Linked DNA regions of Homo sapiens: regions 2 and 3 are each linked to region 1. The links come from fine-mapping of genetic effects on gene expression. A gene starts in region 1. Each other region holds a variant in brackets. All regions are shown on one strand. Distances are between the middles of the regions.

The links.
Region 2: its variant is fine-mapped to the expression of UFSP1 in whole blood (INTERVAL, PIP above 0.99).
Region 3: its variant is fine-mapped to the expression of UFSP1 in breast (GTEx, PIP 0.96).

What each region holds. Positions count from the first base shown.
Region 1 is chr7:100,884,294-100,894,132 of GRCh38, forward strand. It overlaps UFSP1 (UFM1 specific peptidase 1), which reads right to left and starts at 5,422. Exons shown (of 1, transcript NM_001430944.2): 1 at 4,428-5,422. The coding sequence starts at 5,206. The coding sequence ends at 4,550. It overlaps SRRT (serrate, RNA effector molecule), which reads left to right. Exons shown (of 20, transcript NM_015908.6): 7 at 75-259; 8 at 447-545; 9 at 630-747; 10 at 920-1,077; 11 at 1,408-1,469; 12 at 1,570-1,648; 13 at 1,954-2,142; 14 at 2,502-2,675; 15 at 2,754-2,907; 16 at 3,027-3,220; 17 at 3,410-3,566; 18 at 3,749-3,850; 19 at 3,964-4,090; 20 at 4,181-4,371. The coding sequence ends at 4,256. ACHE (acetylcholinesterase (Yt blood group)) reads right to left here. Exons shown (of 5, transcript NM_000665.5): 2 at 8,872-9,839; 3 at 8,041-8,525; 4 at 6,876-7,045; 5 at 5,701-6,042. The coding sequence ends at 5,921. RefSeq lists enhancers at 1,511-2,244, 5,915-6,648, 6,366-6,425, 6,649-7,381, 7,662-8,401 and 1 more and silencers at 5,446-5,495, 6,587-6,744, 6,816-6,865.
Region 2 is chr7:100,922,788-100,932,951 of GRCh38, forward strand. It overlaps the pseudogene RPS29P15. Among named protein-coding and RNA genes, the nearest start is that of MUC3A, 22 kb to the right of the region's middle. RefSeq lists enhancers at 4,694-5,651, 5,652-6,608. The variant C/G (reference allele first, on the strand shown) is at 5,152.
Region 3 is chr7:100,261,185-100,271,348 of GRCh38, forward strand. It overlaps LOC105375426 (a long non-coding RNA gene), which reads right to left and starts at 6,300. Exons shown (of 2, transcript XR_927809.2): 1 at 5,432-6,300; 2 at 3,683-3,946. It also overlaps the pseudogene CASTOR3P. RefSeq lists enhancers at 8,095-8,617, 9,142-9,663. The variant C/T (reference allele first, on the strand shown) is at 4,359.

The sequences.
Region 1 (9,839 bases):
CTGGGGATCAGGTAGAAGCCGGTTGACAGGAGCCAGGGCCCTGGGGTCATGACCTCTGTTCCCTTTGTTGGTAGCCGTGATTAAGATGGAAGGAGGCACGGAGAATGATCTTCGCATCCTGGAGCAGGAGGAGGAGGAGGAGCAGGCAGGAAAGCCTGGGGAGCCCAGCAAGAAAGAAGAAGGACGGGCTGGAGCAGGCCTAGGGGACGGGGAGCGCAAAACCAACGACAAGGATGAGAAGAAGGAAGACGGCAAGCAGGTCCGAGCCCTGGGTCTCCTAGTGTTGTCCCTGGCAGCCTGGGGGAGGGGGGCGGGTAGGGGTCCATAGGAGCTAGAAGTAGGGGGCTGGGGAAAATGAACCTGTGGCCTCAGCTGTGGGGGTGGGGGCCCTCTGATAAAGGTGGGAGGGGAGGTTTGACATCCCCAGTGGTTGTCTCTTACCATAGGCTGAGAATGACAGTTCTAATGATGACAAAACAAAGAAGTCGGAGGGTGATGGGGACAAGGAAGAGAAGAAAGAAGACTCCGAGAAGGAAGCCAAAAAGGTGAGGTGTCTGTGGCCTGGGGTCAGAGTGTTGGGGCTGGGGTTCTGGCACGCTGACTTGTCCCCTCTGCTGTGGCTCACACAGAGTAGCAAGAAGCGGAACCGGAAGCACAGTGGTGACGACAGCTTTGACGAGGGCAGCGTGTCAGAGTCTGAGTCGGAGTCAGAGAGCGGCCAGGCTGAGGAGGAGAAGGAGGAGGCCGGTAGGGTTTCTTTTCTGCTTTAAAGTGCGTTCTCCTAATGCGGGTGGGGAGGTGAGAGGTTGGCGACATTGACGGGAGGGTGGGTGGCTTTTAGGGGAAAGCTTCTGTATCCTCCCCACCACAATCAGTAATAAAAATGCACCAACTCCTTCCTACCCCCCTTCCTGCCTAGAAGAAGCGCTCAAGGAGAAGGAGAAGCCCAAGGAAGAAGAATGGGAGAAGCCCAAGGACGCCGCGGGGCTGGAGTGCAAGCCGCGGCCGCTGCATAAGACCTGCTCCCTCTTCATGCGCAACATCGCGCCCAACATCTCCCGGGCCGAGATCATCTCCGTGAGTGGGGACCCGTGGAGTCAGGGCAGGGCTGATGGAGAAGTGGAGGGTAGAGGGAAGGCAGTGGGGCCCTGCCTGTGACAGATGCCCCCGTTTCACCTGCTAGGGAGGCCCCTTCCCCAGGTTCCATGGCCTCCGAGGACTAGTCCTGATAGCGCCATTGGCTTTCAGGTGCTGGTGTTCTGAAGCCCTTTAGTGGTTTTTCCCTGCCCAAGGATGGGAAGAGTGATAAGGCAGTTAGTCCCTAGGGTTCTGAGGGCAGTGGGGGATTGGAGGAAGAAGCGAATGAATCCTTGAGTCACTGTGGGGCTGCTTTTCTGCTTCTTGCAGCTTTGTAAAAGGTACCCAGGCTTTATGCGGGTGGCGCTCTCAGAGCCCCAGCCAGAGAGGAGGTGAGTAACTCGGTGCGTTGGAGGGAAAAGTGCAGGGGAACGTTAATGGCCAACACCAACTCCCTCGCTTGACTATGCTAACATTTTCTTTCTTGTGTAGGTTTTTCCGTCGTGGCTGGGTGACCTTCGACCGCAGTGTTAACATTAAAGAGATCTGTTGGAACCTGCAGAACATCCGTGTGAGTGCTGGGGGTGGGACTGTGGGGAAGAGGAAGGGAGACTCTGTGCCACACGGGACCTCTGTGTGACTTTGTTCATCTGATAGTTTGGTTGTTCTGCACACTCTTTGACCGTTTTGTCTGGCTACGTTGTCTCTGGGCAAGGCTCTAGGGCGTTAGCATGGACGGAACCTATGTGGTCCCCGTCCCCAGGGAGCTCGCAGTCTGATCAATCGCTGGTGCTCAAGAGGGAAGGGTCTTAGAGCTGCTGTTTCTCTGGCAAGCGGGGTAAGTGGGGTAAGCTGCTGATGATGTCTGCCCTCCAGCTCCGGGAGTGTGAGCTGAGCCCTGGTGTGAACAGGGACCTGACCCGGCGCGTTCGCAACATCAACGGCATCACCCAGCACAAGCAGATTGTGCGCAACGACATCAAGCTGGCGGCCAAGCTGATCCACACGCTGGATGACAGGACACAGCTTTGGGCCTCAGAACCAGGGACGCCTCCCCTGCCCACGGTCAGTGACTCCCCAAAGGACTTTGTCAGAAGCAACTGGTAGTGCCTCTGCTGTGGGCACCTCTGACCTTACCTATCTGTAGCCTTGAACCCTTGCACCCACTCGCCTGCTCACTCATTTGCCCCTTCGTGTGTGGGTAGCAGCACCTCCAGATTCCAGCAGAACTGGGGGGATGCTAGTGATCATTTGTGGCTGGGGTGGAACAAAAGCTAAAATAAAGACAAATCTCAAGGGGGCAAAAGGTGCCATTTATGTCCGGTGAACTCCTGTCCCCTCGCTGCTCTTTCACTTGTGGAAAGTCTCAGGTTACCTCCTCTGAAGGTCTTCTCTGCCTTACTTGCTTCTCTTCCTCCCATCAGAGCCTGCCCTCGCAAAACCCGATCTTGAAGAATATCACCGACTACCTGATCGAGGAAGTAAGCGCCGAGGAGGAGGAGCTGCTGGGGAGCAGCGGGGGCGCTCCTCCTGAGGAGCCTCCTAAGGAAGGGAACCCGGCAGAGATCAACGTGGAGCGGGATGAGAAGTTGATTAAGGTGCCAGTGGCAGCGCGGGGCACGTGGGGGCTCGGGCGGTGAGGGCAGGAGCTGAACGCTCGCATTCACTTCCCTTAGGTCTTGGACAAGCTCCTCCTTTACCTGCGCATCGTGCATTCCTTGGATTATTACAACACCTGTGAGTACCCCAACGAGGACGAGATGCCCAATCGCTGTGGGATCATCCACGTTCGGGGGCCCATGCCACCCAACCGCATCAGTCACGGGGAAGGTGAGCTCCAGGTTCCCCTTTGTTCCCGGCTGCCCCTGGCCTTGGTCCTCCAGCCCCTTGCCACCATCCTTCCTTCTGGCTCCCTTGCCAACCTTCCTTCCTCTGTTCCCAAACCACAGTGCTGGAGTGGCAGAAGACTTTTGAGGAGAAGCTCACGCCGTTGCTGAGTGTGCGGGAGTCACTCTCAGAGGAAGAGGCCCAGAAGATGGGGCGCAAAGACCCAGAGCAGGAAGTGGAGAAGTTCGTCACCTCCAACACGCAGGAACTGGGCAAGGATAAGTGGCTGTGTCCTCTCAGTGGCAAGAAATTCAAGGTGTGGGATGTTGGAGAATGGCCGTGCTACGGTGGTGGGAGGTGGGGTTGAGACAGGAAGCCCCCTGGGCAGGGGTGGGGGAACTGCTTACTGCACTGGCAGGCGGGAGCTGGGAATCCTTCCAGCTCGGGCCTGGGAGCGAGGCAACCCTTATGTGGCTGTCCTGACCCCTCTCCTCTCTCCACCCAGGGTCCTGAGTTTGTGCGCAAACATATCTTCAACAAGCATGCAGAGAAAATTGAGGAAGTGAAAAAGGAAGTCGCGTTTTTTAACAACTTCCTCACTGATGCTAAGCGCCCAGCTCTGCCTGAGATCAAGCCAGCCCAGCCACCTGGCCCCGCCCAGAGTAAGATACGATCCATGAAGGTCGCATGTGCCCTCTTCCTTGACTACCCAGGGACTCCTGTTTCTCTTTAACGTGTCACCCCGAGAAGTTTCTGCCCCATCCTCAGGCCATAGCCCTAGAAGTCAATTGTACCCGTATCCCCCTCCCCGCCCCCGCAGTAATTCATGTCCCTGTCCGTGTTGTACTCCCCCCAGGTTTGACCCCAGGACTCCCCTACCCACACCAGACTCCCCAGGGCCTGATGCCCTATGGTCAGCCCCGGCCCCCGATCTTGGGCTATGGAGGTAAGTACAGGAGGGAGATGAAGGGGCTTGGTGAGTGTGTGGCTTTGGGAGAAGAAAACAGAGGATGGAATTGAGGACATAGTTTTGCAACTCAACACTGATCTCTGTCATAGCTGGTGCTGTCCGCCCTGCAGTCCCCACAGGAGGCCCTCCATACCCCCATGCCCCGTATGGTGCTGGTCGAGGGAACTATGATGCCTTCCGAGGCCAGGGAGGTTATCCTGGGAAACCTCGCAACAGGTGAGGAGGGCAGACGCCCAAGCTTTGTTGCCGCCTGCAGACTCCCTTTTGGGAGCCCTCAGCTCTCATCCTGTACCTCTCACCTCACAGGATGGTTCGTGGAGACCCAAGGGCCATTGTGGAATATCGGGACCTGGATGCCCCAGACGATGTTGATTTCTTTTGAGCCGTCCCCCGTTCCTCAGTCCTGTATCATCCATACTTGTACTACCTTGTCCTATGAAGCTCTGAGAATTTTTTGTACGATCAGCCTTACTGCTAATAAAAGCACTTCCACAGGGCTCCTGACTCTCGTGTGTTACATAACTCCTCCATCCTTCCAGAGTAACTCCTGAGGTGTTGCTCAGCCCTGCCACTTTTATTATTGATGTCAAAAGCGCCAGGCTTTGCAGGGACACCAGTGGGAGGTACATAGGTGCGTGTCTGGGACCCGAGAATCTCAGTTCTGTAACTTCGTCCTCAGTCCAAGGTGCGCTGCTGCTGTTGGGAGCTAAGGCTGGTCAAGCACAGGTTGTAGAAGGAGTTGGGGTCAAAGGCTGCACTCACCTCTTGCCAGCCCACCCACCCAGCAGCCTGTAGTTCACTGGGGCTTTTTGGAGTGCCCCAGTAGTGAGGGTCCAATACCAGGACATAGGCTTCCGTGCCTGACCCTACGCAGACTCCCAGCAAGGCCTTGGACCTGGCATCTGCGTCCCCCCCAACCATGACTGGGCCCCCACCCCCTGCGAAGTGCGAGTAAAGCCTCTCCAGCTCCCCGTGCAGCCCCACTCCCCGGGGTACGTGGCAGAGGCGTCCCTGGGGCCCTCCGAAGTGAGCGAGGCAGAGGCTGGCCTCCACGCAGCCGATCCAGTCCCGGGAGCCCCGGAAGCCGGGGGGCTTGTCGCCCATGTCCTCCAGGGCCGCCTGTACGGCGGCCAGTCCAGGTACGCCCGCGGGCTGGCCCTCTGGCCACGAGCACAGCGTCTGCAGAGTGCGGTAGCCGCAGCCCCAGCCGCGGTCGTCCAGGCCGTCGCAGCCGTAGTGGTAGTAGAGGTAGTGGCCCGAGAGCAGCGCCAGGCGGACAGGGCCGCGGCTCGGCGGGGACAGGCCCACGTGGACGTCCCTCAGCGGCTCCAGGGCGGTGGGCGGGAGCGGAGGTCCCAGGCCAGGCACAGCGTCCTCCTAGCGGCGCGGAGCGACCTCAGGCTCCAACACTTCCTTTCGGCTCCGGGTCTTGGGCCAGCTGCCGCAGGACCGGCGCGCAGACTGGGGACGCGCTCCCCGGGCCTCGTTGATCACCGCAGGCCGCAATAGGCAGCCACCGACCGGCACCGACCGAGGAGCTCCCACAATGCTCCGCCGCGCCCCGCCCCGCCCCGCCCCTCCCCTCCCCTCCCCTCCCCTCCCCTCCCCTCTCCTCCCCTCCGCCGTGCCAGCTAGCCTGCCTGCGGGCCTCATTACGCAGGCGCGAGCTCCGCCCGGCAGGGCAGGGCTAGGGGTTGGCCTTTGCCTTGCGCCCGCCTCGGAGCTCGCCTGTTTCTTGCCCTCCAGCCCCGCTCCTGCATAGACTCGGCCCCCGTGATTCCGGCGTTCTGCCTCTACCCCTGGCTCCCTAGTCGCGCACACTCCCGTGGCTGTAACAGTTTATTGGCAGCCCAGAGGGGCGAAGGCACCGCGGGGGAGGGAGCTCAGCCTGAGACATGCAGAGGACCGGGAGCCCCGGGGGACGTCGGGGTGGGGTGGGGATGGGCAGAGTCTGGGGCTCGTCTGTGTTATAGCCCAGCCCTGAAATAAATAGTATATACAGCTAGGGGGCCGGGCGGAGCGGAGGACATGGGGGTCCCGCCGGGGTCACAGGTCTGAGCAGCGATCCTGCTTGCTGTAGTGGTCGAACTGGTTCTTCCAGTGCACCATGTAGGAGCTCCAGCGGTGGAACTCGGCCTTCCACTGGCGCTCCGCCTCGTCGAGCGTGTCTGCGGCCAGGGCGCCCAGCGAGGCGGGAGGGGAGGACGGCACGAGGAAGGTCGGGGATCGGACATTTGGGCGGGTTGAAGGGGGGGTATGAGTGCAGGGAGGACGCACGGAGAAATGCAGGCGACCACGTGGGACGGTGGCAAGAGGATCAGGAGAATGTGCGAAAGACGAGAGGGAGGATGAGGGCAGAGGCGGGGCCGGAGAAGGACAGCAGGAAGGAGAGAGGAGGAGAAAAGAATGACCGGAAGACGGGAACAGAGGGGACAGGAGGGGGAGGTTGGGGGAAAAAGAAGAGACAGAAATGGTTGACCGTTATAGCCCCAATGGGGGGTGCTACCCCGTCCGGGGCCTCCCACTTCCCCCCAATGTCAGGCTCAGGTTCCAAAAGATAATTTTATAAAAGAATACTGGCTTTTCCATTTCCATTCAAACAACAAAGGCGTGGGGGTCCCTGAGAAGGGTGGGAGGCACGGCCCCCTCCTCCTGCCCTGTCCAGTGTGAGTCTCTCGGTTTGAGGAGGAAGGGAGCACTAGGTCTGAGATCCCTGAGTGGGGCCCTTCCCCACGGTCCGACCACTCATTAGAGGAGGGGCCCCTGTGGCCGTAGGGGAAGAGGCCGTGTTCACAGCCGCCGGAGGTGGGAGAGGAAGAGGAGGAGAAGCTGGTGGAGGAGGAGGAGGGGCAGGGGGAGGCCGGGCCTCGGAGCAGCCTCCCCATGGGTGAAGCCTGGGCAGGTGCTGGGAGCCTCCGAGGCTAGGGGGAGAAGAGAGGGGTTACACCTGGCGGGCTCCCACTCCCCTCCTCCCAGCCGCTGCCCGCTGGCCCCTGCATACCGGTGGCGCTGAGCAATTTGGGGAGGAAGCGGTTCCAGAAGGCGCAGGCCTGGGCGCGCAGCCCCCGCCGCACCTCCAGCGGCCGCAGGTCCAGACTAACGTACTGCTGAGCCCCCGCCGTGTACGGGGGCCATTGTGGGGCCTTGGGGTCTCGGGGCTCATTGGGATCCCTGCGGAAGGAAGGGAAGGCTCAGTCCAGACGGGCAGTGGGAGGAGGTGGCCCCCAACTCCACGGGATCCCGGACTCTTCAGCTCAGCGGAGAGCCCCAGAGAACCCGTCCCCTCCCTCCCACCACTTTCTCCAATGTGCGCGGTCATTGGGGTCTTCCCTTCCTCAAGCGCTCCGTCTCCTTCCGTTTCCCTCAGCTTTTCTGTTCCATCTTTGTTTCTCTCACTAAAAAAATGGCTAGGATGTCTTGAGACTTTCCTAAATAACCAGGACGGGTCCTATGTCTACAAACATCACATTTTTTAACAACACCCATCCAATGCTAGATTTCATTGTCCTCTTCTCGATCCAGGTAAACTGGTGTGTGTGTGAGAGAATGTGTCACTGCTAGTGAATCATCACTGGTTTGACTTAATCCAGCTCCAACTCCTTTGTCTTGGTCTCCCTTTTTTTTTTTTTTTTTTTTTTCCAGAGATAGGGCCACTCAGGCTGGAGTGCAGTGGTGCCATCATAGCTCACTGCAGCCTCAACCTCCCAGGCTCAAGCAATCCTCCTGCCTCACCTTCCCAAGTAGCTGGGACTAGAGGCACGAGCCACCGTGCCTGGCTAAGTTTTGTATTTTTTTTCTTTTTAAGAGTCGGGGTCTTGTTATGTTGTCCAGTCTGGTCTCAAACTCCTGGCCTCAGGGGATCCTCCCACCTTGGCCTCCCAAAGGGCTGGAATTACAGGGGTGAGCCACTGTGCCCCGCCCCCTCCATGTCTACCTCGTCTCCTCCTCACTTTCCTTTGCCTCTGTCTCTGCAAGACCCCCTCTGCCTTCTCTGTCTCCTTTCTTTTTCTCTCCCCTTTTATCTACTTTGTGAGCATATCCCTCTCTGGCTGTTCTATCCTGCCCCTGTCCCACCCGTCCTTTCTGTCTCCGTGTGTCTGCCTTTGTGTGTCCTCCCGCCCCCGACTCCTGTCCTCCCCAGCCTTCTCTCCCTCTGCACTGCTGACCCTGTGCGGGCAAAGTTGGCCCAGTATCGCATCAGTCGCTGGGCGAAGATTTTCTCCTCTGCCGTGTAGTTTCGAGAGGGGTCCAGGGGGATCCCAAAGATGAACTCGATCTCGTAGCCGTGGGGCACCCCCATCCACAGGGGCCAGGAGAGCGTGGAAGCACGGTGTTCAAAGACGTAGGCGTAGACCCGGGCACCCTGGGCAGCCAGTCGCCCAGCCAGCTGGGCCACGGGGCACACGACATTGTGGTCGCCCACCACATCGCTCAGGGCCTCCCTCAGGCGTGCCGGGTCCTCGGGATGCAGCCAGTCTGTGTAATGCAGGACCACAGCCTCGGCTGCCAGGTCACTTACCTGGGGAACCCCGACCCGCACCCCGGCCAGGAACTCGGCCCGGCTGATGAGAGACTCGTTGTCTTTGCTGAAGCCTGGGGCCCCGTAAACCAGAAAATACGAGCCCTCATCCTTCACCACACCCACCAGCACCTGGGGGTGAGGGAGAGGGGGGTGGGATGGAGCGACAGGCACAGACAGACAAGTAGACAGAAACAGATGGACAGACAAAGAGCCAGAGAGATGAACAGTTACAGACCCGGAACCATGGACAGAGAGAGGACGAGATCAGGGGAGGGATGCAGAGAAAGAGAAAATAGACCCATGGTGGCTTTCCTGTCTGCCCTGCTGACCACCCTGGGATCTGAGCCCTCAGGGAGGACTTCTGGGACTTCTGGGAATGGGCCTGGAGAAGCCCTCATGCCTGGGTCCCTGCAGGGAGGGGAGGGACCGTTGGGACCCAGAGGAGCCAGCTTCACGCCAGCTAGCCACTAGTTACCTGCAGGCCGTGGAAGTCTCCCGCGTTGATGAGGGCCTCTGGGGTGTCACTGAGGAAGTCTCCATCTACCACAGGCACGAAGGAGAACCGGAAGACGCTTTCTTGAGGCAGCACGTGCCATTCGTGGTTCACCAGGACCTGCGCTGGTCGTGTCCGAAGGCAGGCTACCAGCTCTGTGTCATTCCCACCAGTGCCGCCTGGAGGACAGCCCACAAGGTGGGCCAGCTGCGTGGCCCTGCGACGGGCCTCTCCCATGCCCACCGTGGCCCAGGGTCCATTGGGGGCACCGCTCTGCAGCACGGCCCTGTGGAACAGGCCCCGGCTGGGCGGGGACAGCAGGTGCATGCCCACCGAGGCGGCTCCCGCGCTCTCCCCAAACAGCGTCACTGATGTCGGGTCACCCCCGAAGGCTGCCACGTTCTCCTGCACCCACTGCAGGGCCAGCCTCTGATCCAGGAGACCCACATTGCCCGGGGCCTCTCGGCTCCCCGGCAGGGCCAGGAAGCCAAAGGCTCCCACCCGGTAGTTCATGGACACCAGCACAGTCCTCTCGGCCTGTACCAAGAAGCGGCCATCGTACACGTCCAAGGAGGAGGCCCCACTGTAGAAGCCACCCCCATAGATCCAGACGAGGACAGGGGTGGGGGATGTAGGCCGGGGGTATGGTGTCCACACGTTGAGGTACAGGCAGTCCTCGCTCAGCTCACGGTTGGGGTTCCACATCTCGGTGCCCTCAAAACCTGGGTATAGGGTGTCCACATATTGGTAGCAGACACTCTGGAAGGTTGTAGCGTCTACCACCCCTGACCAAGGCTGCTTGGGCTCCGGTGGCAGAAAGCGACGGGGTCCCATGGGTGGCTCCGCAAAGGGGATGCCCAGGAAAGCAGAGACAGGGCCCCCGGGGGTCTTCAGGCGAATGCCCCGCAGCCGGCCCCCACGCACCGTCACCAGCAGCTCTGCATCCTCCC
Region 2 (10,164 bases), 39 kb after region 1:
CAAGGAACATCTCACCAATTTTAAATCGGGTAAGTGGCCTTTTTTCACTCCCTTCTCCAACCTCTCTTAGTATCCCTCAACCTCTTTCTCCTTTCAATCTTGGTGCCACACTTCAGTCTCTCCCTTCTCTTAATTTCAGTTCCTTTCCTTTTCCGGTAGACACAAAGGAGATGCATTTTATCCATGAACCCAAAACTCCGGCACTGGTCACAGACTCAGGAAGAGAGTCTCCCTTGGTGTTTAATCACACGGGGATGCCTGCCTGATTATTCACCCACATTTCAGAGGTGTCTGACCATGTGGGGATGCCTGCCTTGGTCCTTCACCCTTAGTGGAAAGTACCGCTTTTCTGGGGGGCAAGAACCCCCTGACCCCTTCTCTCTGTGTCTCTACCCCTTTTCTGCTTTTCTAGGGGGCAAGAATCCCCCAACCCCTTCTCTCCGTGTCTCCACCTCTTCTCCACTTTTCTGAGGGGCAAGAACCCCCTGAACCCTTCTCTCCATGTCTCTACCCCTTCTCCACTTTCCTAGGGGGCAAGCACCCCTGACGCCTTCTCTCTATGTCTCTACTCTCTCTTTTCTCTGGGCTTGCCTCCTTCACTATGGGCAGCCTTCCACCCTCCATTCCTCCTTCTTCTCCCTTAGCCTGTGTTCTCAAGAACTTAAAACCTCTTCAACTTACACCTGACCTAAACCTAAATGCCTTATCTTCTTCTACAATGCTGCTTGACCCCAATACAAACTCGACAGTGGTTCCAAATAGCCAGAAAACAGCACTTTTGATTTTTCCATCCTACAAGATCTAGATAATTCTTGTCATAAAATAGGCAAACGGTCTGAGGTGCCTGACATCCAGGCATTCTTTTACACATTGTTCCCTTCCTACTGTCTGTTCCCAATGTGACTTGTCCCAAATCCTCCTTCTTTCCCTCCTGCCTGTCCTCTCAGTCCCAACCCCAGGCGTTGCTGAGTCTTTCTAATCTTCCTTTTCTACAGACCCATCTGACTTCTCCCCTCTTCCCCAGGCTGCTCCTCGCCAGGCTGAGCCAGGTCCTAATTCTTCCTCAGCCTCTGCTCCCCCACCCTATAATCCTTTTATCACCTCCCCTCCTCACACCCAGTCTGGCTTATAGTTTTATTCCACGACTAGCCCTCCCCAACCTGCCCAGCAATTTCCTCTTAAAAAGGTGGCTGGAGCTAAAGGCATAGTCAAGGTTAATGCTCCTTTTTCTTTATCTGAACTCTCCCAAATCAGTTAGCATTTAGGCTCTTTCATCAAATATGAAAAACCCAACCCAGTTCATGGCTTGTTCGGCAGCAACCGAGACACTTTACAGCCCTAGACCCTAAAAGGTCAAAAGGTCATCTTATTCTCAATATACATTTTATTATCCAATCCACTCCTGACATTAAATAAAACTCCAAAAATTAAATTCTGGCCCTCAAACCCCACAACAGGACTTAATTAACCTCACCTTCAAGGTGTACAATAATAGAGTAGAGGCAGCCAAGTAGCAATGTATTTCTGAGTTGCAATTCCTTGCCTCCATTGTGAGACAAACCCCAGCCACATCTCCAGCACATGAAAACTCCAAATGCCTGAACCGCAGCTGCCAGGGATTCCTCCAGAACCTCCTCCCCCAGGAGCTTGCTACAAGTGCCAGAAATCTGGCCACTGAGCCAAGGAATGCCCACAGTCCAGGATTCCTCCTAAGCTGTGTCCCATCTGTGTGGAACCCCACTGAAAATTGGACTGTTCAACTCACCTGGCAGCCACTTCCAGAGCCCCTGGAACTCTGGCCCAAGGCTCTCTGACTCCTTCCCAGATCTTCTCAGCTTAGTGGCTGAAGACTGACACTGCCCGATCGCCTTGGAAGCCTACAGGACCATCACAGACGCTCTAGGTAAGTCTCACAGTGGAGGGTAAGTCCGTCCCCTTACTCAATTCGGAGGCTACCCACTCCACATCACCTTCTTTTCAAGGGCCTGTTTCCCTTGCCTCCATAACTGTTGTGAGTATTGACAGCCAGGCTTCTAAACCTCTTAAAACTCTCCAACTCTGGTGCCGACTTATACAACATTCTTTTATGCACTCTTTTTTAGTTATCCCCACCTGCCCAGTTCCCTTATTAGGCTGAGACATTTTAACTAAATTATCTGCTTCCCTGACTGTTCCTGGACTACAGCCACACCTCATTGCTGCCCTTTTCCCCAGTTCAAAGCCTCCTTTGCATCCTCCTCTCATATCCCCCCACCTTAACCCACAAGTATAAGATACCTCTACTCCCTCCTTGGTGACCGATCATGCACCCCTTACCATCCCATTAAAACCTAATCACCCTTACCCCGCTCAATGCCAATATCCCATCCCACAGCACGCTTTAAAAGGATTAAAGTCTGTTATCACTCGCCTGCTACAGCATGGCCTTTTAAAGCCTATAAACTTCCCTTACAATTCCCCCATTTTACCTGTTCTAAAACCAGACAAAACTTACAGGTTAGTTTGGGATCTGCGCCTTGTCAACCAAATTATTTTGCCTATCCACCCCACGGTGCCAAACCCATATATTCTCCTATCCTCAATACCTCCCTCCACAACCCAATATTCTGTTCTGGATCTCAAACATGCCTTCTTTACTATTCCTTTGCACCCTTCATCCCAGCCTCTCTTCGCTTTCACTTGGCCTGACTGACACCCATCAGGCTCAGCAAATTACCCGGGCTGTACTGCCTCAAGGCTTCACAGACAGCCCCCATTCCTTCAGTTGAACCCAAATTTCTTCTTCATCTGTTACCTATCTCAGCATAATTCTCATAAAAACACACATGCTCTCCCTGCTGATCGTTTCCAACTGATCTCTCAAACCCCAGCACCTTCTACAAAACAACAACCCCTTTCCTTCCTAGTCATGGTTAGATACTTTTGACTTTAGGTACCTGATTTTGCCATCCTAACAAAACCATTATATAAACTCACAAAAGGAAACCTAGCTGACCCCATAGATCCTAAATCCTTTCCCCACTCCTCTTTCCATTCCTTGAAGACAGCTTTAGAGACTGCCCCCACCCTAGCTCTCCCTGACTCATCCCAACCCTTTTCATTACCCACAGCCGAAGTGCAGGGCTGTGCAGTTGGAATTCTTACACGAGAACCCACACTGCGCCCTGTAGCCTTTTTATCCAAACAACTTGACCTTACTGTTTTGCCTAGCCCTCAAGTCTGCGTGCGGCGGCCGCCACCACCCTAATACTTTTAGAGGCCCTTAAAATCACAAACTATGCTCAACTCACTCTCTACAGTTCTCATAACTTCCAAAATCTATTTTCTTCCTCACACCTGACACATATACTTTTTACTCCCTGGCTCCTTCAGCTGTACTCTTTGTTGAGTCTCCCACAATTACCATTGTTCCTGGCCCGGACTTCAATCTGGCCTCCCACCTTATTCCTGATACCACACCTGACCTCCATGACTGTGTCTCTCTGATCCACCTGACATTCACCCTATTTCCCCATATTTCCTTCTTTCCTGTTCCTCACCCTGATCACACTTGGTTTATTGATGGCAGTTCCACCAGGCCTAATCACCACACACCAGTAAAGGCAGGCTATGCTATAGAACAAGCCACTATCCCACCTCTTAGAACCTCTCCTTTCCTTTCCATCATGGAAATCTATCCTCAAGGAAATAACTTCTCGGTGTTCCATCTGCTATTCTACTACTCAGGGATTATTCAGGCCCCCTCCCTTCCCTACACATCAAGCTCAGGGATTTGCCCCCACCCAGGACTGGCAAATTGGCTTTATTCAACATGCCCCGAGTCAGGAAACTAAAATACCTCTTGGTCTAGGTAGACACTTTCACTGGATAGGTAAAGGCCTTTCCCACAGGGTCTAAGAAGGCCACCACGGTCATTTCTTCCCTTCTCTTAGACAAAATTCCTCGGTTTGGCCTTCCCACCTCTAGTCCTATAATGGACTGGCCTTTATTAGTCAAATCACCCAAGCAGTTTCTCAGGCTCTTAGTATTCAGTGAACTAATGGTCTTTTAAAAACACACCTTACCAAGCTCAGCCACCAACTTAAAAAGGACTGGACAATACTTTTACCACTTGCCCTTCTCAGAATTCAGGCCTGTCCTCACAATGCTACAAGGTACAGCCCAGTTAAGCTCCTGTATAGACACTCCTTTTTATTAGGCCCCAGTCTTATTCCAGACACCAGACCAACTTAGACTGTGCCCCCAAAAACTTGTCATTCCTACTATCTTCTGTCTAGTGATACTCCTATTCACTGTTCTCAACTACTCATAAATGCCCTGCTCTTGTTTACACTGCCAGTTTACACTGTTTCTCCAAGCCATCACAGCTGGTATCTCCTGGTGCTATCCCCAAACCGCCTCTCTTAACTCTTAAAGTAAATAAATAATCTTTGCTGGCAAGGCTGTGCTGAACCTCCTTAGGCACTCTAATTAGATGTCCTAGGTCCTCCCAATTCTTAGTCCTTTGATACCTGTTTTTCTCCTTCTCTTATTCCATTTAGTTTTTCAATTCATACAAAACCATATCCAGGCCATCACCAGTAATTCTACACGACAAATGTTTCTTCTAGCAACCCCACGATATCACCCCTTACCACAAAATCTTCCTTCAGCTTAATCTCTCCCACTCTAGGTTCCCACGCCGCCCCTAATCCCGCTCGAAGCAGCCCTGAGAAACATCACCCATTATCTCTCCATACCACCCCCCAAAATTTTCGCCGCCCCAACACTTTACCCCATTTCATTTTATTTTTCTTATTAATATAAGAAGACAGGAAAATCAGGCCTCTGAGCCCAAGCTAAGCCATCATATCCCCTGTGACCTGCACGTATAAATCCAGATGGCCTGAGGTAACTGAAGAATGACAAAAGAAGTGAAAATGGCCTGTTCCTGCCTTAACTAATAACATTACCTTCTGAAATTCCTTTTCCTGGCTCATCCTGGCTCAAAAGCTCCCCCACTGAGCACCTTGTGACCCCCACCCCTGCCCACCAGAGAACAACCCCCCTTGGACTGTAATTTTCCTTTACCTACCCAAATCTTATAAAACCCCGCTCTCCCTTCACTGACTCTCTCTTCACTGACCACCCCTCTCTCCCTTCACTGACTCT[C/G]TTTTCGGACTCAGCCCGCCTGCACCCAGGTGATTAAAAGCGTTATTGCTCACACAAAACCTGGTGGTCTCTTCACACGGACTCAAGTGAAACTGACCTCAAGTGATCCGCCCACCTCAGCCTCCCAAATTGCTGGAATTACAGGTGTGCGCCCCTGCGGCCAATTTTATACGTTTTAGAGGGATGGAAGTTACAGGCATACGTCAATCAATACGTGTAAAGTGTACATTTGTTCACTCAGGAATCATGGAACAATTTGGGGTGTGGGGCAGGGGGACTTCCAGATCATAGGTAAATTCCAAGATTTTCTGATTGGAAATTGGTCGAAAGAGTAAAGTTATGATCTAAAGACCTGGAATCAACAGAAAGGCGTGTCTGGTTTAAAAATAAGAGGTTGTGGCCTTTTACCTTGTTGCACTTCTGAGAGCAAGATGGGTCACCAGCAGCTGTACTAGAGCCACCAGTGAATATTCGGCCAGGGTTTTCATTCTTGTCACATCGGCCCAAATCGGCATGGTCTGATCTGTAAATATGCCCTCAATATGTACTGCCAGTGTTTCCGTCAGTACAGGAAAGATATCGGTTTCATTAAGTTGCACTAACTGACCTTCCTTGAAAGGTTTATCCAACGCATGTACCCAGTGAAAAACCATGATAGTGGCCGGGCACGGTGGCTCACGCCTGAAATCCCAGCACTTTGGGAGGCCAAGGTGGGCAGATCACAAGGTCAGCAGATCGAGACCATCCTGGCCAACATGGTGAAACCTCGTCTCTACTAAAAATACAAAAATTAGCTGGGCGTGGTGGCATATGCCTGTAATCCCAGCTACTCAGGAGGCTGAGGCACGAGAATCACTTGAACCCGGGAGGTGGAGTTTGCAGTGAGCTGAGATAGCGCCACTGCACTCCAGCCTGGCAACAGAGCAAGACTCCGTCAAAAACAAACAAACAAACAAAAAAAACCCCAAAAAACCATGATAGCTCTTTGCACATAAAATAAACATTTTTTAAAAAGATAAGGGGTTGTGGAGACCACCTGTTTTTTTTTGACAGAGTCTCGCTCTGTTGCCCAGGCTGGAGTACAGTGGCGCAATCTTGGTTCACCGCAACCTCCACCTCCCGGGTTCAAGTGATTCTCCTGCTTCAGCCTCCCGAGTAGCTGGGACTACAGGTGCACACCACCACACCTGGCTAATTTTTTGTATTTTTAGTAGAGACAGGGTTTTTCCATGTTAGCCAGGATGGTCTGGATCTCCTGACCTTGTGATCTGCCCACCTCGGCCTCCCAAAGTGCTGGGATTACAGGCATGAGCCAAGACCAAGGTTCTTGTTATGCAGATGAAGCCTCCAGGTAGCAGGCTTCAGAGAGAATAGATGGTAAGTGTTTCTCATCAGACTTAAAAAGGTGCCAGACTCTTAGTTATATCTCTCCTGAATCAGGAGAAGACCTGGAAAGGGAAGGGGACTCTCTACACAGTGTAGATTTTCCCTACAAGAGACAGATTTGCAGGGCTGTTTCAAAATATGTCAAAGAAAAATTTATTTTGGGGTAAAATACTTCTGTTTCTTTCAGGACCTGCTATCTGTCATGTGATGCTGTACTTCAGTCAGGTTGGAATTTGGTATCTTATTGCTACAAAGAGTCTGTTTTGTCAGCCTTAAGATCTCTGTGTTGATGTTAATGCTGGTCAGTTGTGCCTGAATTCCAAAGAGATGAGGGCAGAATGAGGCATGTCCAACACTCCTTCCCATCATGGCCTGAACTAGTTTTGCAGGTTTACTTTGGAATGCCCTTGGCGAGAAGGAGTCCGCTCAGTAGGTTGGGGGGCTTAGAATTTTCTTTTTGGTTTACAGGTGCAAAGCTTGTGATTTAGCCAGGAGATTTCCTGCCCCTCCCAAGGGGGCAGATTTTGCTTCAACCCTCCCTCACCATGTAATGAGGGGCTGGTCCTATCCCTCCCCCAGAAATACATGGCCTTACTTGTACCCTTACTTCCACCAGGAGTGAACCTTTGCCTGTCCTCAGGGGATGGGAAGGATTCCTGCCCCTTCCCCTGAGGCTTAAGTCCTTCTGCTTCTTGTGAGACAAGGTTCTGGGAGGTAGGAGGGGGTTCATGCCTGAGAACCACTGAGGGAGCCTCTTTCTTGTCTCATTGTACCTCCAATCTTTCTCATGAGCACCAAGAGGTGGAAAAGAGATTGCGAGTGAACTTGGGGTCTGCTAGATCCTGATGCACCCAGGGGGATTCTAAGTTGTCATGCTGGCCCACTCCTGGCCTCTGAGAATTCATTAAAATGTTGTTTTCCTATCACCTGCTTTTTTGGTGGCCACTTCTTCCTCCTGTGCTCTGACAAAGGTGGAACTTTTCATGTGTCCTGTCTCTCCTGAGAGGGTGCGGTCACTCTTTGGACCTCAGTTCACCTGGTTGCCTTGAAGCCTAAATTTCTGATGGGCTCAAGAAATGCCAAAACCTATAGATTACCCAGCTTTTTCTTCTTTTTATGGTAGGAGTGATAGTCTCTTGTGGATTTATTTTATGTATTAATTTTATTGCACTTTTTGTAGAGATGGGGGCCTTGCTAGGCTGCCCAGGCTGGTCTTGAGCTCCTGGCCTCAAACGATCCTCCTGCCTTGGCTTCTCAAAATGCTGGGATTACAGGTGTCAGTCACCATGCCCAGCCTCTTGTGGCTTTTTTACTCTAAGTGAAAGCATAAATCCAATAATTTTTATTTTTATTGTTATTGTTTGGAGATGAGTCTCACTCTGCCACGCAGGCTGGAGTGCAGTGGTACAATCCCGGCTCACTGCAACCTCTGCCTTCCAGGTTCAAGTGATTCTTCTGCCTCAGCCTCCTGACCAGCTGGGATTACAGGCACATGCCACCACGCCTGGCTAATTTTGTATTTTTAGTAGAGATGGAGTTTCACCATGTTAGCCAGGCTAGTCTCAAACTCCCGACCTCAGGATCTGCCCACCTCGGCCTCCCAAAGTGCTGGGATTACAGGCGTGAGCCATTGTGCCCAGCAAAAATCCAATAATTTTTAATAACTCAAAATATGATTTTGACTACGTAAATTTTTTTTTTTCCCTTTGTCCCTCTTTGTAATTTGATGCTTTGGTATCTCAGTTCTAGTTTTTGATTTGGCTCCAGGTAGTACAAGTTCTCATGGATTACATGTATGGTTTAGAATCCTGAAGTCAATGAGATGAGAGCAGACCTAACATCAAACACTTGAAGTAAAGAAATTTATGTGGAAGGAATATATAAAATGAGTTTACATTGGGTAGTTTGGATAAAGCATAACATTAGAGAAGGGTACATGTAGCTAGATGTGTCTTTACCTTTAAAAAAACTTGAATATTGAGGCTGGGTGCAGTGGCTCATGCCTGCAATCTTAGCACTTTTGGAGGCCAAGACGGGCGGATCACTTGAGGTCAGGAGTTTGAGACCAGCCTGGCCAACATGGTGAAACTATTTTTAGTCTCTACTAAAAATACAAAAATTGGCCAGGCATGGTGGTGCATGCCTGTAATCCCAGCTACTCAGGAGGATGAGGCAGGACAATCACTTAAACCTGGGAGGTGGAGGTTGCAGTTAGCTGAGATGGCACCACTGCACTCCAGCCTGGGCAAAAGAATGAGACTCAGTCTCAAAAAACAAACAAAAGAACCCAACAAACTTGAATAGCGAAAGGAGGATATTTTGATATGTTATTTCCATTTTCAGTAATAAATACATGTGTGTATCCAATAACTTATTAAAATGTAGATTTGTTTATTGAAAAACTTATTAGCATGAGGTCAGGAGATCAAGACCATCCTGGTTGACACAGTGAAACCCCATCTCTGCTAAGAAAGTACGAAGGAAAATTAGCTGGGTGTGGTGGCAGTGGTAGGCGCCTGTAGTCCGAGCTACTCAGGAGCCTGAGGCAGGAGAATGGTGTGAACCCGGGAGGCGGAGGTTGCAGTGAGCCGAGATCGTGCCACTGCACTCCAGCCTGGGTGACAGAGAGAGACTCCATCTCAAAAAAAAAAAAAAAAAAACAAACAAACTTATTAGGAGGTTTTAGTGGCAGATTAGACAGAGCTGAAGAGAGAATCTGTAAACTGAGAGAACAGAAGAAACTCACCACATGCTTCATGAGCAGCTATGAGACAGAAAATACGGAAGAGTAGTTAAAAACACATGAAGAATAGAAAGGGAAGGGTTAACCTCTATTTAATTGCAGTTCCTGGAGAAAAGAGTTAACGGGGGAAGAGAAAATATGTGAAGAGAGAATGGCTGGCAAGTTTCCCAAACTGAGAAGAGACCTTATCAGCTTTGAGAAGCCAAGGAATCCCAAGCATGATAAATACAAAGAAATCCATGCCCAGAAACATCCTGGTGAAGCTTCAGAATATTAACGAAACAGAAAGTCTTAAAGCAGCAAGAGAAAAAAAATTAAAGGCCTGACAGATTAAGCTCAGTCTTCTGTATAGCAACCTTGAAGCCGGAAGACAATGGAATCTTATTCATGTGCTGAAAAAAAAAAAAACTGTCAACTTAGAATTCTATACCTAGTAAAAATACTTTCAAGAGGCCGGGTGCGGTGATTCACACCTGTAATCCCAGCACTTTGGGAGGCCGAGGCAGGCAGATCATGAGGTCAGGAGTTTGAGACCAGCCTGGCCAACGTGGTGAAACCCCGTCTCTACTAAAATACAAAAAAATTAGCCGGGGTTGGTGGTGCATGCCTGTAGTCCCAGCTACTTGGGAGGCTGAGGCAGGAGAATCACTTGAATCTGGGAGGTAGAGGCTCACCATCTACCCGGCTAATTTTTTTGTATTTTTAGTAGAGACGGGGTTTCACCACGTTGGCCAGGCTGGTCTCGAACTCCTGACCTCATGATCCGCATCCCCCCTCCCCCCGCGGCCTTCGAAAGTGCTGGGATTACAGGCGTGAGCCACCGCACCCAGCTCAATGGCTGAACTTTTAGCTTCATTTTAGCAGAGTTCAGACACCCCCATAAT
Region 3 (10,164 bases), 620 kb before region 1:
GACAGCTCCTTCCTGTAGAGCTGCTATGAGGGTGAATGATGGGAACTCCCAGCGGAGGCCTCATGCATAGTGGGTGTTCGAGAAGGAACTGCCATGGCTGGGAGCAGTGGCTCACGCTTATGATCTCAGCCCTTTGGGAGGCCGAGGCAGGTGGATCACCTGAGGTCAGGAGTTCGAGACCAGCCTGGCCTACATGGTGAAACCCCATCTCTACTAAAAAATACAAAAATTAGCTGGGTGTGGTGGCACATGCCTGTAGTCCCAGCTACTCGGGAAGCTGAGGCAGGAGGATCACTTGAGCCCAGGTGGCAGAGGCTGTATTGAGCTGAGATTGCACTGCACTCCAGCCTGGGCGATAGAGTAAGACCGTGTCTAAAAAAAAAAAAAAAAATACGGGAACATCAGACACTGGGGACTCCAATAGAGGTTGGGAAGGGGAGGAAGGTTAAAAAAATTACCTATCGGGTACAATGTTCACTATTTGGGTAATGGGCGTACTAGAGGCCCAGTCCCTACCAGTATGCCATATATGCATGTAACAAACATGCACGTGTACCTCTTGAATCTAAAATAAAATAAAATCTTAAACATTAATTTTAATTTTTATTTTTTTGAGACAAGGTCTGGCTCTACTGCCTGGCTGGAGTACGGTGGCACAATCTCGGCTCACTGCAGCCTCCACCTCCTGGGGTCAAGCGATCCTTCCACCTCAGCCTCCTGAGTAGCTAAGACCACAGGTGCATGCCACTATGCCCAGCTACATTTTGTATATTTTGTAGAGATGAGGTTTCACCATGTTGCCCAGGCTGGTCTCCAACTTGTGAGCTCAACCAATCTACTCGCCTCAGCCTCCCAAAGTGCTGGGATTACAGGCATGAGCCACCACGCCTGGCCTCAAATTTTATTAATTGTTGTAAAATACACACAACAAAACCTACCATCTTAACTATCTTTAAGTGTGCAATTCAATCGTGTTAAGCACGTTTGCAATACGGACAGCAACTGCCACCATCCATCTCTAGAACTCTTCATCTTACCCAACAGGAACTCCATACCCACTAAACACCAACTCCCCAGCTCTTGGCAACCACCATTCTTTCTGTCTCTATGACTCCGGCTACACCAGGTATTTCATACAAGTGGGATCTCATGCAGTATTTGTTCTTTTGTGACTAGTTTATTTCACTCAGCATGATGTCTTCAAGGTTCATTCATGTTGTAGCATGTGTCAGAATTTCCTTCCTTTTTCCCCTCTGAATAATATTCCTCTGTGTGAATACATCCCATTTTGTTGATCTGTTCATCCATCAGTAGACACCTGGGTCACTTCCACCTTTAGGCCTTAGTGAATAAGGTTGCTGTAAATGTGGGTGCATGGCCAGGCGCGGTGGCTCATACCTGTTATCCCAGCACTCTGGGAGGCCGAGGCTGGTGGATCACTTGAGGTCAGGAGTTCAAGACCAGCCTGGGCAACATGATGAAACCCCATCTCTACTAAAAATGCAAAAATTAGCCAGGTGTGGTGGCGTGCACCTGTAATCCCAGCTACTCGGGAGGCTGAGGGACCAGAATCGCTTGAACCCAGGAGATGGAAGTTGCAATGAGCCAAGATCGCACCATTGCACTCCAGCCTGGGTGACAGCAAGACCCTGTCTCAAAAAAAAAAAAAAAAAAAAAAATTGGGGTGTGCAAGCAAAACCTCAGGTTTTCGAGCAGAGATCTAGCTCAGAGGTTGGAGTATGTTCAATGTGTTATGGTGAGGGCAAGCCTGAGTATATATGGCACCTAGACACCAGTTTTCCATTTAGGCCAGGCACCGTAGCTCACACCTGTAATCCCAGCACTTTGGAAGGCTGAGGCAGGAGGATCACTTGGGTCCGGGAGTTCGAGACCAGCCTGGGCAACATAGCAAGACCCCATCTCTACAAAAAAAACAAAAATTATCTGGGTGTAGTGGTGAGTGCTTGCAGTCCCAGCTACTCAGTGGGGCTGAGGCAGGAGGATTGCTGGAGCCTGAGAAATCGAGGCTGGAGTGAGCTGGGATTGCATCACTGCACTCCAACTAGGGTGACACAGTGAGACCCTGTCTCAAGAATTTTTTTCAGGCCAGGTGCGGTGGCTCATGCCTGTAATTCCAGCACTTTGGGGAGGCCGAGGCGGGCGGGTCACGAGGTCAGGAGAGCAAGACCATCCTGGCTCACATGGTGAAACTCCGTCTCTACTAAAAATACAAAAAAATTAGCCGGGCGTGGTGGCAGGTGCCTGTAGTCCCAGCTACTCGGGAGGCTGAGGCAGGAGAATGGTGTGAACCCGGGAGGCAGAGCTTGTGGTGAGCCAAGATCGCACCACTCCACTCCAGCCTGGGGGACAGAGCCAGACTCTGTCTCAAAAAAAAAAAAAAAAAGAATGTTTTTCAAAAAGTTTTAATTTAGCACCGTGGATGGCCCACAGGGACCTTGGACACCCAGAATCCCACTGGCCCAGCGCGGATGCAACTGGGCTGGTTTCTCATACTGCAGATCTGTTATAAGAGAAAACCTTTCCAGCTGTGTGCAGGCTCAGAAGAGACCAATTAAACCTTTTACAAGGTTTTTTTGTTTTTGTTTTTGTTTTTTCTGAGATGGAGTTTCACTCTTGTCGCCCAGGCTGGAGTGTAGTGACATGATTTTGGCTCACTGCAACCTCTGCCTTCTGGGTTCAAGTGATTCTCCTGCCTCAGCCTCCTGAGTAGCTGGGATTACAGGCGCCCGCCACCACGTCGGCTAATTTTTGTATTTTTGGTAGAATCGGGGCTTCACCTTGTTAGCCAGGCTGGTCTCGAACTACTGACCTCAGGTGATGCACCTGCTTGGCCCTCCCACAGGTGCCAGGATTACAGGCGTGAGCCACTGCGCCCAGCTACAACTGACTTTTTTGATCCCTGGGAGATAAGTCAACACCGAGGGACGACCGGTCCTAAGCCCTGGACATGGACCTGGGGGTGAGGACAGAAGGGGATCAGGACCAGCCCTCTCATCCTGCACCCTGAGGCATGGGTGATCCCAGGAAGCCACTCACCAGGCACCAGGGTGGCTTCCTGGAGGAGAGGATGCTGAAGCCGACCTCAAGAAGTGTCTGTGTTAGGTTTAAGGACTCATGAGAGTTCTCTGGCTGGACTAAAGGTAGCATGATCACATAGTCAGGTTTGCCCTATTGTCTGCAGGTTGTTGTTATTATTGTTAAGATGATGATGATGATGATGATGATGATGATGAGACAGAGTCTCATTATGTTGTCCAGGCTGGAGTACAGTGGTGCAATCTCGGCTCACTGCAACCTCTACCTCCTAGGCTCAAGGAATCCTCCCACCTCAGCCTCCTAAGTAGTTGGGATCACAGGCAGGCGCCATCATACCTAGCTAATTTTTTTGTATTTTTTGCAGAGTCGGGGTCCCACCATGTTGCCTCCGCTGGTCTCCAATTCCTGAGCTCAAGCGATCAGCCTAAAGTGCTGGGATTACAGGCTTGCTGGGATTACAGGCATACTGGGATTACAGGCATGAGCCACTGCACTTGGCCAACCTAGTAATTATTTTAAGTACTTCCTGCTATTCTAAAAAATGTTTGTTCCCGTCTCAATGATAAATGGCAGGGTCATTTCATTCCTTATCTGTTGCTACATAACAAATTACCCCAAATCTTAGTGGCTTGAAACAACAACAAACTTTTATTATCTCTCACAGTTCCTATGGGTTAGGAATTTAGGTGTGGCTGAACTTGGCAGTTCAAGGCATTGGCTGGGGCTGCAATCCATTGGAAGGCTTGCCTGGGGCGAAAGGATCTGTTTTCAAAGCCCCGCTCTGCCGGTTGAGGGTGGGATGCCTCAGTTCCTCTCCATATGGGCCTCTCCATGGGGCTGCTTGGGTGTCCTCAGGCCTTGGGGGTTGGTTTCCCACAGAGCAAGGGATCTGGGAGAGAGGGAGCGCCACGCAGAAGCTATCGTTTTGTGCCCTAGCCTCGGAAGTCTTGCGGTATTGCTTTTACCATCTCCTAGTGACTTAGAAGAAAGTAGCCAAGACAGACATTTAAAGGAGAGGGGGGTGGAGGGATCCTAGCTTTTTTTTTTTTTTTTTGACACGGAGTCTGGCTCTGTTGCCCAGGCTGGAATGCAGTGGCGGGATCTCGGCTTCACGCCATTCTCCTGCCTCAGCCTCCTGAGTAGCTGGGAATACAGGCGCCCGCCACCACGCCCAGCTAATTTTTCTATTTTTAGTAGAGACGGGGTTTCACCGTGTTAGCCAGGATGGTCTCGATCTCCTGACCTTGTGATCTGCCCTCCTCGGTCTCCCAAAGTGCTGGGATTACAGGCGTGAGCCACGG[C/T]GCCCAGCCGATCCTAGCTTTTAAAACCACCAGCAGCTGGGAGCAGTGGCTCATGCCTGTAATCCCAGCACTTTGGGAAACCAAGAAGGGAGGATCACTTAAGGTCAGGAGTTTGAGACCGGCGTGGACAACAGAGTGAGACCCCCTCTGTACAAAAAAATCTAAAAACTACCACAGTTGGCCAGGTGCAGTGGCTCATGCCTGTAATCCCAGCACGTTGGGAGGCCAAGGCGGGCAGATCACTTGAGGTCAGGAGTTCAAGACCAGCCTGGCCAACTTGGTAAAACCCATCTGAATTAAAAATACAAAAAATTAGCTAGGCATGGTGGTGGTACCTGTAACCTCAGCTACTCAGGAGGCTGAGGCAGGAGCATCACTTCAACCCAGGAGGCAGAGGTTGCAGTGAGCCGAGATCGTGCCACTGTACTCCAGCCTGGGAGACAGAGTGTAACTCCATCTCCAAAAACAAAAGCAAAAGCAAAACAAAACAAAACTACCATGGTTACCTAAAATAGAGCATGTGTTGGGAAGGGAGTAGACAGAGCCAGAGTGGATAGACAGAAGACATCTGATCAAGAAAGAATTCAGGCCGGGAGTGGTGGCTCACGCTTGTAATCCCAGCACTTTGGAAGGCCAAGGTGGGTGGATCACCTGAGGTCAGGAGTTTGAGACCACCCTGGCCAACAAGGCAAAACCCCGTCTCTATTAAAATACAAAAAATTAGCCAGGCATGGTGGTGCATGCCTGCAATCCCAGCTACTCGGGAGGCTGAGGCACAAGAGTCACTTGAACCCAGGAAGCAGAGATTGCATGCAGTGAGCTGAGATCACGCCATTGCATTCCTGCTTGGGTGACAGAGTGAGACCCTGTCTGAAAAAACAAACAAAACCAACAAGGCAGAGATGTGGCCAGGGATTCTGAAGGAATGCATGAAGTCGACCCAGCACCCACTCCAGTTGTGTCCCTCCATCCTCCCGGACTCCCCCCCTGCCCCTGCACTCCCAGCCATGCCCCCTGTGCGGGCCTCTGGTCCTCTCACCCTCTACCTTTGCTGGAGAACACACAGGACTCACGTCTTTTCCTCCCATGGGACAGAAACTCCTTTCGCGCTTCCTATTAGGCCTTGCCTACAGCAGGTACACACTGCTGGGTTTCTGCGTGAACAGAGCATACCAATTTGCACCCACCACAGGACAGCGGCTTGTTCCCTGCAGACACCTTTCTCTTTCCAGCCTCCAGGCGTTTGCTCCTTCAGCCCAGAGGGATGGGGCAGCAATGAGCATTTGGGCTGCCCTAGAGGCAGGAGGCAGGAAGATATCTGGATAGTTCAGGAAAGAGATAAGGACAAAGGAAAAAGTCATAGGAAAAAGATTTGGGAGCTAGGGTTGAGCCAGCCCCTTTCTCTAGGCAGCAGCAGACTATGGCTGTCCTGAGTGGGCACACGCACGGCTCTGGGGCTCACCCTGTACACTCTTCACCCATACCCCTCCCCTGATCCATCTGTACCCACCCACTCCTGTTCTCTGCTTGCTCATCTTGCTTTATCCCCAGCACCTCCTGACATTTTCTCATGCCACCCATCACCCCATTCTTGGATCAGATGATGCCGCCTCCTCTAGGAAGCCTTACTGGCTTGCAGCTCTGTGGTCCTAGAGCATTTTGGCTGCCCCTGCCAGAGGCCTGACACCTAAATGACAGGTGAGGTCCTTGGCTTAGTTCTGTGAGAGCAGTGACAGCATCTCCACTTTCCAGAATCAGGATGCGTTATGTGTGTGTGTAAAAAGTCTTCTAAGCCTGGGCTTTTCTGGCTCTGCCCTCACAAACTGGTGCTGGCCAGTGGCCCCAGGGCCTTCCCAGTTAATGCTTAATGGCTGGGTACAGTGGCTCACACTTGTAATCCAGCACTTTGGGAGTTCCAGGTGTCTTTACTAAAAACACAAAAATTAGCCAGGCATGGTGGTAGAGAGCTGTAATCCCAGCTACTTGGGAAACTGAGGCAGGAGAATCGCTTGAACCTGGGAGACAGAGGTTACAGTGAGCTGAGATCATGCCACTGCACTCCAGCCTGGGCAACAGAGCAAGACTCTGTCTCAAAAAAAAAAAAAAAATGCTTATTGGAGCTTCTAGTAGACCAGATACTCTTGAGAGTGCTTGGCGTGGTTTATCTCATCAAGCCCTCACAACCACTTAGGTTGCAGGCATGATCATCATCCCTGTTTTACAGGTAAGAAACATAGCACAGAGAAGTCAAGCAACTTGCCCAAGGTCACACAGCCAGGATGAGCAGTGCTGGGATTCCAGCCGAGGTGTCCCAGGGCTCTAACTCCCTTGGGCTAGCCTGTCTTTCCCTAAAGGGCAATCAGACAGTGGCCTCAGCCCAATGTGCTCCGAGGAATGACGAGGGCTCTGCATGGACTTTTTGCAATTTTAAGCTTTTCTCTCATAAATGCCTCTTAAGACGTTAGTGTTCACTGGCCAGGCATGGTGGCTCACGCCTCCCAGCACTTTGGGAGGCCCAGATGGGCGGATCACAAGTTCAGGAGTTCGAGACCAGCCTGACCAACAGCTCATGCCTGTAACAGTTTAAATGTTATGTCCACACGCACCTCTGAGAGGCTGAGGTGGGAGGATCATGTGAGGCCAGGAGTTCAAGGCCAGCCCGGGCAACACAGTGAGACCCCCATCGCTACAAGAAATTTAAAAATTAGCTGAGTGTGGTGGTGCGCACCCGCAGTCCCAGGTGCTTGGGAGGCCGAGGTGAGAGGATTGCTTGAGCCTAGAAGTTCGAGGCTGCAGTGAGGTATGATGGTGCCACTGTACTTCAGCCTGGGCAACGGAGACCCCATCTCTTAAAAACAAACAAACAAAAAGCTCTAAGATCTAGTGCCACCTCCTACAGGTAGGCACCCAGCCTTCTAGGTACCCTGCTAGACCAGCCCTTCCCTGACTCCACCCTGCTGTAGAGTGATGGCCTCTTTCTTTCTCTTCCACCAGGCTCTAGGGCTTGGCAGAGGAAGGGGCAAGGTATCTCTGCATCCCTTGGACCCAGCCACACCCCCACACAGAGTGAATGTTTCCTAATGCCATTCCCTTTCCACAACTCCACTGCACGAGAGAGAAGTGACTTAAGTCTGCTAAGGGGCGGAGGGAAAGGTTCAGGAAGGTTTCAGCGTGCTATCATTAGCTCTTGAGGATTGAATAGGAATTTACTAGGGGTGGATGGGGGAGAATATTCCAGGCAGATGGAAGAGAGGTAGATACGAAGGCACAGAGGTATGTAGGGAACAATAAGGGAAATTGTGTATTTGCTGGGGGAGGGCTAAAGATGAGGATTCAAGGCCAGGAGCAGTAATCCCAGGACTTTGGGAGGTCGAGGTGGGAGGACTGCTTGAGCCCAGGAGTTGGAGGCTGTATTGATCTATGATGGCGCCACTGTACTCCAGCCTGTACGACAGAGCAAGACTCTGTCTCTAAAAGAGAAAAATAAAAAACAAAAAAATAAAGATGAGGATTCAGGATCTAGATCCCAAAGGGCCTCGAATGCCATGTCAACGATTTGATGCTATAGAGTGACTGACAAAACTGTAACCGGGCCGGGAGTGGTGGCTCACGCCTGGAATCCCAGCACTTTGGGAGGTGGAGGCCAGTGGATCACCTGAGGTCGGGAGTTCAAGACCAGCCTGACCAACATGGAGAAGCCCCGTCTCCACACAAAATTAGCCAGGCGTGGTTGTGCATGCCTGTAATCCCAGCTACTCGGCAGGCTGAGGTAGGAGAATCGCTTGAACCTGGGAGATGGAGGCTGCAGTGAGCTGAGATGGCACCACTGCACTCCAGCCCGGACAAGAGCAAAACTCCATCTCAAAAAAAAAAAAAAGAAAAGTAAACAGGTGGCACAGGGACCCTCAGGGCATGCTGTCCTAGTCTGGGCTAAACGTAGGTTTTGGAGAGGGAGGTGACAGAGCTATGGGTCACCACCTGGGGGCAGGTATTACAGGAAGAATCTAAGGGGTTCTACCTGGATGGCTGATTATTGAAAACAGTTTAAATGCTATGTTCGCAGGCTGCGACCCATTAACACTTGCTAAAAAGCCATTTCCCACAATCGTCCCACACCATCCACACAGCAGTTCTGTGTCCATGAGGGGGCCAAGTAGTGCTATCTCTATTTTACAGACGGACAAAGTGTGAGCCAGAGGAGAGACTTTGCCTCAGCCACGCAGGCAGCGGGCTCTGGTCACACATGACCTGAAGCCACGATCCGGGCTCAGAGTGCTTGGGGTGGCAGGTCCTCAGGCATTTGACGAATGTTCCGCACCTTCTGAGGCCGGACCATGGAAACAGAGATGGCCTTTGGCCTCTGAGTCATCTTGAAACTGGACTAGTCAGCTGGGTCACCTGGGCCTGGGACAGGACAGGCTGCTTTCTGCAGGAGGGAGGAAGGGGGACCCACTGAGGGACAGGTTTTCTTGTGTTCCCAGAGGCCAGCAGGGGGGCTTGACCCCAGAGACACGCCTATCCATGAGTACCCAAAGGGGACCCTGAGTTGGGGGCTGGAAGAAGGCCAGTCTCTCCACCAAGGGAAAGGGGCTGAGGGACCCTGCCCTTTGCTGCCTTTCTAAGAAGCCCCCAAATGCCCCCTCCTTCCAGCACCCAGGCCCTGTGCACAGCCGCAGCCTGAGTCATCATCCTCATTTGAATGGTGGCCGAGAAATCAGCCAGGGGGCTGCCCAGGGCTGAGGGCCAAGACTTGGAAAAACAAGGCTGTTCTGTTACCTCCAAGCCTTGGAACGTCCAGCCCGGCTAGGGAGTGGGGGGCAGAGGGCAGGCAGAAGCAGGATCTGAAGGTGTCAACAGCCAGAGGGGGCTTTGTGTGAGGGGTGGGGGCGCGGTTCAGAATCCGAGCTGTTGGCTTTTGTTTTCAAATGACCTGTTTAATCATTACCCTTTGCAATCAACGGGGAGCACAGGCTCCGTGGCAGAGGCTTGGCGACTATTTCAAATCTCCATCCCCTACTGAGCAGCCGGAGAAGAAAGTAAACAAGATGCCACCGGCAGGTCTGGCTCCATCTCGCAAACAATAGCCGGACTGAGCACCCGGCTCAGACACACACATCAAAGTGAGATTTCCAAGCCAGAACTTTTCACAGGCAGATAACAGGCTGGGATGGAATTATTTCCCTGTGTCCCTTGAGCTCAGTGCCAAAGGGGGCAGCCTACAGGGGCTGTCATTTTCACGCTAACCTTGACCCGAAACGTATTCATTCATTTTGCAGTGAGGGAGAGCCACCACCGCCCCAAACCGCGAAAAACCAACCAGTAACAACTTTATCATTCCTTTTTAACAGTCACAATCGTGGGCAAATGAGACTTAAGTTACAGCAGCTAGCTGGCACTCACACTCCCCTCGGCTCAGGGTCCTTAAACAACAACAACAAAACCCTAATGCAAGCACCCACCGGGGCTCACAATGTCAAACCCTTACCTGGCATAGGGAAAATCCAAGTGAGAGAGAGAGTGAGTGTCTGTGTGTGTGTGTGTGTGATTCCATCTGTTACCTTCCAAGGCCTTCAACTATTTTTCCCCCAGCAGCATCCAAGCCCAGCCTCAAGGCAGATGCATAAACATGCCTGCTCCTCCCCTTCTACGGTTGGGCAAAACATCCCCCCACCCCCTTTCCAGGACCCCAAGGAGAAAGAATCACGTCCTCTGTAGCCCCTCCCTGGCCCTCGCCTACCCCCCGTTTCCCCCCCAATTCCAGGCCGTCCGCAGCAAGCCTCGTAGGCACCTTGAGATAAACACCCAC